Linked DNA regions of Homo sapiens. The protein of the gene in region 1 interacts with the protein of each later gene in a pairwise test. Each region holds a gene or a part of one and is shown on either strand. Other genes may lie near its edges.

Region 1 (5,916 bases):
TGCCTCAGCCTCCCAAGTAGCTGGGATTACAGGCACATGCCACCACACCCAGCTAATCTCTGTATTTTTAGTAGAGACGGGGTTTCACCATGTTGGCCAGGATGGTCTCAAACTCCTGACCTCAGGTGATCCGCCCACCTCGGCTTCCCAAAGTGCTGGGATTACAGGCGTGAGCCAGCGCGCATGGCCAGCAGAGCCTTCTCTATGTAGCTATTCATCAGCATTACTTACAGCAACCCAAAAAATGGAAATAAAAGAATAAATCATTAGGATAGAAAATAGTTTTCAAATAAGACTTAATGAATGGAAAAATGCTTAAGTTAAATGTAGAGTGGAAATGGTAGTAAATACAATTGTGCATATAATTCTTTTTTTAATGTTAACAACAAAAAAACGATAAAATTACTTAGTGTTACCTACAGGCTGTGAGATTATGGGTGACTGGTTTCTGTACCTTTCAGTAATTTCCAAATTCCCTACAAAGCAATCTATTTCATAATAACTATTACTTTTTAAAAACTTATCTCTGAATAAGGTGAAGAAACTGGGCATGATTCTTTGTTTTTATACTGTGGATGGCTAATCACTTAAGAGCAATGCATTCAAAAGTAAGTCCAAAGCATTACAAGTTGTTTCCACAACAGTCAATGGTTAAGACCAAACTTGTAAATTTTTTTTTTAAAAAAACACACTCAAAATGCTGAATGAAATACAAATAGACAAGAAATCGATTTAACATAGAGATTTAACCAAAGACTGTAATAAGGGGACCACCTGGAAGGTGGACTCTATTGAACAAAAGTTAACAAGAGAAGCCAGCTGAAGGAGGAGATAGCTTTCAGACAGCCACGGAAGGGAATGCTGCCTCACATAGGAAGTCCAAAACAGGTCTAAGCCATGCCATTTTCTGACTACCACTGCTTATTCCTTAGAAAGAGAACCAACCACCACAGCAGTGTTCAGCAAAGCTCTCCTACATTCCAAATCTCCTGGTGAAAATACCACACTCAGGACTGGGAGGGCAGCCCAAGCAACTGCAACGCACCCTCTTCCCAGGATCAACAGCACCGCCCAGGCACCCTACACACACCCTAGCTACATCAGGAAGCCACCCTCCACCAAGATCGTTCCTCACAGTCTTCAAGTAGATGGGGTCACCTCCAGCAGGTCATCCATAAGGAATCCTGCCTTTCCTGTCCGGGAATGGTCTGTGCAAGGGTTTGTACTTCCTTCACTGCTCTGTGTTTCCAGCTGGATCCTGGAGCACAGGGGCTGTGCCCTCCACTTCTTAGTTCCTAGTCTATGAGCCTGGCAGCGGCTGAAGCCAATATACAAACCAGTGAAAGGATGAAGTCTCTTTCCATGATGTCAGGTCTAGAATGGAAATATTATTAATTTCATGTCTCCAGGTTGAATATTTGTATTGGGGGTAGAGGGGAAGCAGGAAAGGACTTCCAAAGAAGAGAAGGTTAGGGATGGGCAGTGCAAACAGCTTCACTATTTATTTTAAAGTTACCAGAAGCACTTATATTCTCCACAACCTCTGCAGTACACCCAGATGGCCACATTCATATGGGGAAGCCATCAGGCACAGAAAGGAAGCATGTCATAGAGTCTGAAGCCAAACCAACCTAAACTCAAAGCCTTAGTTTCCTCATCTGTAAAATGGGGATAACTATGCCTAACTCACAACGTGATTGGATCGTGTATATAAAATTCAACATCTGGCACACAAAAAGCACTCAGGAGATGGAAACCATTTATCTGCTGTGTCTTATGACAGATGAATCCACGAGTATCAGATGGGCTCTCTTTGTTGACTAAAGCCAAGAGACCCTTGACAATGATCTCTTCTCCTCTGGACACACAGGGCTGGAACTCGCAGGAGCAGGACTGAGACGGGAGGTCCTAGGTTAGAGTAAGGTGTTTGCACTAGCTGTATACTGCCTAAAAGAGACTCATTCTGTCACCCCAACCCTGGTTCCACCCAGCTATGGGAAATCTCTGCAGAGGCTTCAGGTGTGGATATGTCTATGGGCCAAGAGCGGGGGTGGGAGGCAGGGAAAGTGATGACTGTGACCTTGAGCAAGGCACTTCTCTGCCTTAGTTTCCTCTTTGGTAAGCAGAGTGGACCTGTTCCATGATCCCTGAAGTCCTCCCTGTGCTTCTATTGTACCATCCCCTCTAGGGCACTGGTTATAATTCTCACAGGTCCAAGGGACACCTTCAAATGTGTTCCAATTCCTCCCAGCCACTGAGTAGCCCTTTGGCCCTGCTCCCACGAGAAAGGAGGATTCGGAGCAGCGTTCACGGCTTTCTGGTTTTTGTTCTGTGTGCAGCAGCTCTCCACCCCTAGCTGCTCCTTCCACCTTTCCTTTTCCGCCTCAAAGTGGTCAAGTGCCTGTGCAGGGGCAATCGCTGGCCTGCAGTGTCAGCTCAGAGACGGTTTCCAGACCATCCTGTGTACAGGCTCAGGGTGGACAAATAAACATTTTGGAGAAGCAATAGGAATTAAATCATTTCTTCCACAACAAAACCCTTATGCTTCTTCATAAATCATGCCTCTTCATTCCATACTGATGAACAGTCACTAAATTGCATCTGTTATAAAAACAGCCCTTACTCCTTTCATGCCCAGACACTTAAGAATCAAAATATTTTCACACTCCATTGTACTAATAATGCCTTGCAGAAGTAATACCAATAGCTATTTCCCTGGAAAGATCCGTGGCCAGGGCGCTTTCCAAGAGGTTTTCTTTGAATGTTCTTTGTGTCCTGCTGTACGGGGGGACACGGCCGGCCTGCCCGCATCTGGGGGACGCTGGGCTTGTCCCGGTAATGCAATACTCTTTTAAAGCACACCTCGAATCCACCTCTTCGCCCCGACAATAAAGTATCTCAAAACATTCGATATGCCACATCATACAGCCTTGACAAAAAAGCACGCCGGTGCCTGCATTCTGCAGGAAAAACCAGGCACATTCTGAGATGAAGCCACCAGACCCGCTTCGGGTTCCATGGACAAGAGAACAGCTTTGCAGACCCCTTAGCAAGACCGGCCAGAAGCCGCTCGCTTGTTCGTTTTAATTATTTATTTCCCCCGTGCCTTTATTTGTTGGGCCCCAGAAGAATGGCAAAGCATCTTCCAGAAAGGACGGCGAGGGAGCTGGAGAATAAAAGAGGATGGGCGGGGAAAGCCGGGGTTTTGAAAACAGCAGCGATAAAGGCAGGCGGGGTCGCGGCCGCGTTCCGAGGGTCTCGGCGGAGCTTACCTGGGGCGCACGAGGCCGGCCGGGCCAGCAGCAGCAGCCAGAGGCCAGGAAGCAGCAGCCCCGGGCGGCGGCGGCGGGCGCAGCGGGCGGAAGGCCGTCGGCCGCTCGGCCCCGGGGCCAGCGCGACCCCGGCGCGGGGCTTCCCCTCCATGGCCGCGCCTCGGCGTCGGCGCCGCGCCCCCGGCATTCCCGGCCGGCGCCCCGGCCCGGCCTCGCGGCTCAGCGGCTCTCGGGTCCGGGAGGGGCGGCCGCTGCGGCTGCGGCTGGGACGGGGCGCCGCGCACCGGCGCGGAGGGAGGCCGGAGAGGCGGGGGCGGGCCGGGCCGGAACCGAGGACAGGGGCGCCAGCCGCACGCCCGCCTTGCCGCTCCGCCCCCTTCGGAGCCTCGGAGCCGCTGCCCGGCAACGCGCGGGCCCGGGCGCGGGACGGCGAGCACCCCCTCCCGGCCGGCCGGACGCCTGCCTGCCTGCCTGCCTGCCTGCCTGCGGGGCGGCCGGGGCAGCGTGCGCGGGGCTCGGCGCGGCAGAGGCGGCAAGGGCGGCGAGGCGGCGCGGCCCAGCCCTCCCCCAGGACCCGCCTTCCGGAGGGAGCGCGAGGGGCTCGGGGGGCCTGGGCCGGGCGGTGCCGCCCCGACCCGCACCCAACCCCGGGTCCCGCCGCGCGTTCCCCGGGGCGCCCGGATCAGGGTAGGCCGGCAAGCCGGGGGAGGGGTCCTCTCGCCTCCCTCGCTCCTCCTCTCCCGCCGACTCCTTGCGGGCAGCAGGTGTGTGGGGCGCCGCGCTCTCAGGACAGCCTCGGGGCCGCGGAGGGGACAAAGCCAGACAAAGTCGGGCTCCTGCGCTAGAGCTCAGCGTGCAAGGCAGGGGCGAGCAGAGCGCACGCAGCTCTCCCCCGCCTTCCTGCCTTAAGAAGGTGCGGCCACCTCTGCGGGTCTTCGGGAAGCGACCCTGCGCTCAGGGCCTGGGAGGCCCGCGGGACCCTGCACTTAGCAGGCCTTGAGCAGGCGGCTGCTGAAGCGAATGGGCGTGGAGCTGGGGAGACCCGCAAGGCCAGGCCGTTTTAGGGAAAGTGGCGCTCCTGAGAGGTGGAGAGAATGCCCAGAGAGCGTTTGAGGGTTGGAGTCCGCGGGGGGAATGAGGAACGGGAAGAAGGGAGTTGACATCTGTCAAGTACCTACTGTGTGCCAGGCACGTCACTCTGAAGACGCCCCGTGGCTTCAGGGTCTAGGGAGGAGGAATTGGAAGTTTTGAATCGTTGCATCCCACTGGCATTGTTGCATCAAGCAGATATTAACGGTGTGTGTGGGGGACACTATCTCGTGCAGAAAAACTATGGCAGACAGCGGAAAAGGTGAATCATTACACTGGCAGAGGGATCCTCGCGGCTATTCAGTCGGGTTCCCCTGCCAGGCCCAGCCCTTGAAGGGGCTGCCCAGCCTTGCAGCTCCAACTCTTCTGGACTCCTTGCCCTTGGCGAATAGTTCTTCCTAAGAATAGGACAGGGGCACTCTTCTGTAGGTACACACCTGGTCCTTACAGGTGGGTACTTGAAACCTGGTAGTTTCAAGGAAAATGAGAATAAAGGTTAAAAAAAGCTTTTGTTGATGTTCCTGGTGTTTTTACACGTTATTGTAACCCCCCATCATACAGCCCCTATGTTTATTACAGTAACTGCTCCTGTCTCCCAAAGAGGGTTCTGCGTGCACACCCAGGTAAGTACCTAAGAGAAACTGCCCAGATATGTCTGGTCCCAGGACACCATGGCCATAGATCTGGGACCTCTTATTCACACACTTATCTTTATTCTCTGAACTCTCTATAACAGCACATTTGACCACAAACCACTGCCTTCGTGCAACTCTTGAATGGTCTTGTCCTGTTGTGTTGTTTTATCTTTTATGAATTTATGCTTTGCACACACAGCCCCCACCCCACCTCCAATAAATTAATATGAAATTCAAATATGGTGCTATCCTGCTTAGGATTTCTCATAGCCCCAGTAAGCCCTCAGTAGACAATCGTTGGTTTGAGCCAGAGCATGCATTCCGCCCGTGAAGAGGTTCCATCTTCAGATTTGGCCTCAGCCTCCTGCAAGCTGCCATCTACACTAGACCCGTTGGTGTCAGAGAAAAAAGCCTCCCTCGGCCATGCGCGGTGGCTCACGCCTATAATCCCAGCACTTTGGGAGGCCAAGGCAGGCAGATCACCTGAGGTCAGGAGTTCAAGACCAGCCTGGCCAACATGGCAAACCCCGTCTCTAATAAAAACACAGAAAAATTTACCCAGGCATGGTGGCACGTGCTTGTAATCCCAGCTACTCAGGAGGCTGAGGCAGGAGGATCACTTGAACCCAGGAGGCGGAGGTTACAGTAAACCAAGATCACGCCACTGCACTCCAGCCTGGGTGCCACAGCAAGACTCCATCTCAAAAAAAAAAAAAAAAAAAAAAGGAAAAGAAAAAAGAAAGGAGTCTCCTTCTCCATTCTCTGCAAACTCAAAGACAATAGTGTTTGCCCTGCCATTAAGAGATTGATCAGCTGGAAGTAAAAATAAAAATTGGAACCCTGAGATACTAGAAATGACTCATGGACACCAAAGTGTCCGTGGAAAGTGAGGTCCCTAGGGTCCCTTAGTCTCCCAGCTC
Region 2 (3,500 bases), on another chromosome or scaffold:
GAAAAGAACAAGTATTGTTCATCCAAGAAGGGTTTTTGTGACTGAATCAGCAGTGCCTGCCCTAGTCATAGCTGTGCTTCAAAAACCTCAGCATGATTAGTGTTGGAGCAAAACAAGGAAGCAAAGCAAATACTGTTTTTGAAATTCTATCTGTTGCTTGAACTATTTTGTAATAATTAAACTTTGATGTTGAGAAATCACAACTTTATTGTACACTTCATTGCAACTTGAAATTCATGGTCTTAAAGTGAGATTTGAATTTCTATTGAGCGCCTTTAAAAAAGTAATACCAAACCATAAAGTTAAAATCTATGTATATTGAGTCATATCTAAAACCACGTATAAACATAAATTGTATTTCCTGTTTTAATTCCAGGGGAAGTACTGTTTGGGAAAGCTATTATTAGGTAAATGTTTTACAAATTACTGTTTCTCACTTTCAGTCATACCCTAATGATCCCAGCAAGATAATGTCCTGTCTTCTAAGATGTGCATCAAGCCTGGTACATACTGAAAACCCTATAAGGTCCTGGATAATTTTTGTTTGATTATTCATTGAAGAAACATTTATTTTCCAATTGTGTGAAGTTTTTGACTGTTAATAAAAGAATCTGTCAACCATCAAAGAGGTCTGCATTATGCTTGCATGTCAAAAACTTTAAAAATCCTATAATCTTCTGTCATTTTCACTGAGTTTCCATGGGAAAGGAATAGTAAATAATGGGTAGTTGAAATATTACTCTTAAGACCAAGACCTGTATCTCCAGTCATATCTGTAATAACATCATCTGATAACCTAAAAGCATAGTATTAGGGATATACGACAAAACCAAAGTGTTTTTGCTGTTGTCACATACCACTCAATACTTTTACACCAGGTTGTCCAGTGGACACCAGCTGGATGTCCTATAATTCAATTCTGACACTGTCTACCTGGAATTGGAGTCAGATCCCACAGGTGGAGGGCTCAGCCCACAAGACTGCCCCCACTCCAGATACCAATCGCAAGTCCCTATACTTCTGACTGGCTATAAAGTGGGGTTCCCGTGACCCTTTCCTTGGTTTTGATTTATTTGCTAGAGCAGCTCCCAGAACACAGAGAAACACTCTACTTATGTTTACCCATTTTTAATTTTATTACTTTATTAAAACTACATATTGGTTACAATACTAATTTATTGTAAAGGATATTTCATTTATTTATTTTTTTATTTAGAGATGGAGTCTCACTGTGTCACCCAGGCTGGAGTGCGGTGGCACAGTCTCAACTCACTGCAACCTCCACCTCCTGAGTTCAAGCGATTCTCATGCCTCAGCCTCCCAAGTAGCTGGGATTACAAGTGTGCACCACCATGCCCAGCTAATTTTTGTATTTTTAGTAGAGATGGGGTTTCACTCTGTTGGCCAGGCTGGTCTCAAACTCCTGACCTCAAGTCATCCACCCACCTCAGCCTCCCAAAGTGCTGAGATTACAGGTGTGAGCCATTGCCTCTGGCTTGTAAAGGATATTTCAAAGAATACAGATGAACAGCCAGATGGAAGAGATGCACAGGGCAAGGCATGTGGGAAGGGGTATGGAGCTTTCATGCTCTCTCCACGTCATCAGCTACCCAGAAGCTCATCTGGACCCCGACCCTTTGGGGTTTTACGGAGGCTTCATTATGTCAGCATTACCATTGGCAATTGGCGATTAACTCAACCTTCAGCCTCTCTCCCCTTTCTGGAGGTTGGGGGTTGAGGCTGGGAGTCCAAACCCTCCAATCTTGCCTTGGTCTTTCTGGTAAGCAGCCCCCCGTCCTGAAGCTACCTAGAGGCTCCCAGCCACCAATCATTTCATTGGCAAACCAAAGATACTTCAAGGGGTTTAGGAGCCAAGAGACCAAGCAAGGATTGAGACAATATATATATTTCTTATAAATAACATGATCACAAATAGTATTTTATATATTTCTCATAATAGCTGGTTGTGGTTACTCACACCTATCATCCCAGCTACTAAGAAGCTAAGGCAGGAGGATCACAGGCCCAGGAGTTTGCAGCTGTAGTGAGCTATGATTGTGCTACTGCACTCCAGCCTGGGTGACAGTGTGAGACCCTGTCTCTTAAAGTTCTTGTAACATCTTAGAACATTAACCAACCACAGATTATTGCCTTAACTCTGAAAAATAAAGTAATCATACTTTTACAAGATGTATTTTACATAAAGTTCTGGTGATATTTTACTCTGGTCATTGGAATATAGGAGCTTACCACCTGGTACCACTCTTCCTAAAGTGGTATACTATTTGGTATAGTACTGGCATACTATTTGGAAAGGGATGTGAAGTTGGCATGACCTGTCTAGGGTGAAGTCATGCTGTCTGCTATTCATTGTGGGCTTTACAGTAATGAGAGTGCTTCTGTTGTCAAGATGCTTCTGGGACACGTTAAAAAAAATTTAAGATTTCTCAGTTTGTGAAAAGGAAGGAGCACGAATGCTTTCAAGTTCCTATGACATGCTAGTCATCTTTCAGTGTGTCCCATTGTTGCACCCAGTAGTCTCGATGCCCAGCGTCACGGTGATTCCAAGTTTGCCTCTCTGCCCACTATAATTTGTGCTCCATGAAGTCCCAGGACATGAGGTTCTTGTTCATTTGTGCGTCTGGGCCCATATCCAAATATTAAACAATGTGACTTAATGTATTTATCATATTGTAAATATGGGTATCCCCAAGGCTCAGAAGTTAACACAGCATATCCACAGAGAGGTTTGACAGCATGGCTGTGGTGACTGGGAAGGCCTTATGCTTGCTCCTCCTTCTGCTGCTTGCCTTTGTGTGGGCATGGAAAGAACATTGAATTAGGTACTGGAAGACCTGGGTCCTGGTCTTGGAGATTTTACCAGAGCACCTGTGGGATATTGGTCAAGATGCCTGGTTTTAGTCCTGCTCCTTTGCTGTGAAAGAGGATCTTAAGGTGCCAACTCTGGCATTTTATTTTTTACTTATTTATTTTTAAATTATACTTTAAGTTCTAGGGTACATGTGTACAACATGCAGGTTTGTTACATGTATACATGTGCCATGTTGGTGTGCTGCACCTATTAACTCGTCATTTACATTAGGTATATCTCCTAATGCTATCCCTCCCCCTTCTCCCCACCCCTCGACAGGCCCCGGTGTGTGATGTTCCCCTTCCTGTGTCCAAGTGTTCTCATTGTTCAATTCCCATCTATGAGTGAGAACATGCGGTGTTTGTTTTTTTGTCCTTGGAATAGTTTGCTGAGAAGGATGGTTTCCAGCTTCATCCATGTCCCTATAAAGGACATGAACTCTTCCTTTTTTATGGCTGCATAGTATTCCATGGTGTATATGTGCCACATCTTCTTAAACCAATCTATCATTGATGGACATTTGGGTTGGTTCCAAGTCTTTGCTATTGTGAACAGTGCCACAATAAATATACGTGTGCATGTGTCTTTATAGCAGCATGATTTATAATCCTTTGGGTATATACCCAGT

Evidence for each region.
Region 2: the proteins of KIAA1549 (region 1) and SOD2 interact in a two-hybrid assay, tested with the Homo sapiens proteins (one large-scale study listed by IntAct).

What each region holds. Positions count from the first base shown.
Region 1 is NC_000007.14:138,977,811-138,983,726, forward strand, and holds the start of KIAA1549 (UPF0606 protein KIAA1549), read right to left. Parts: upstream 3,580-5,916; 5' UTR 3,460-3,579; coding exon 3,273-3,459; intron 1-3,272. UniProt on the Homo sapiens protein: May play a role in photoreceptor function.
Region 2 is NC_000006.12:159,676,242-159,679,741, reverse strand, and holds part of SOD2 (superoxide dismutase [Mn], mitochondrial isoform A precursor), read left to right. Parts: 3' UTR 1-3,500. UniProt on the Homo sapiens protein: Destroys superoxide anion radicals which are normally produced within the cells and which are toxic to biological systems.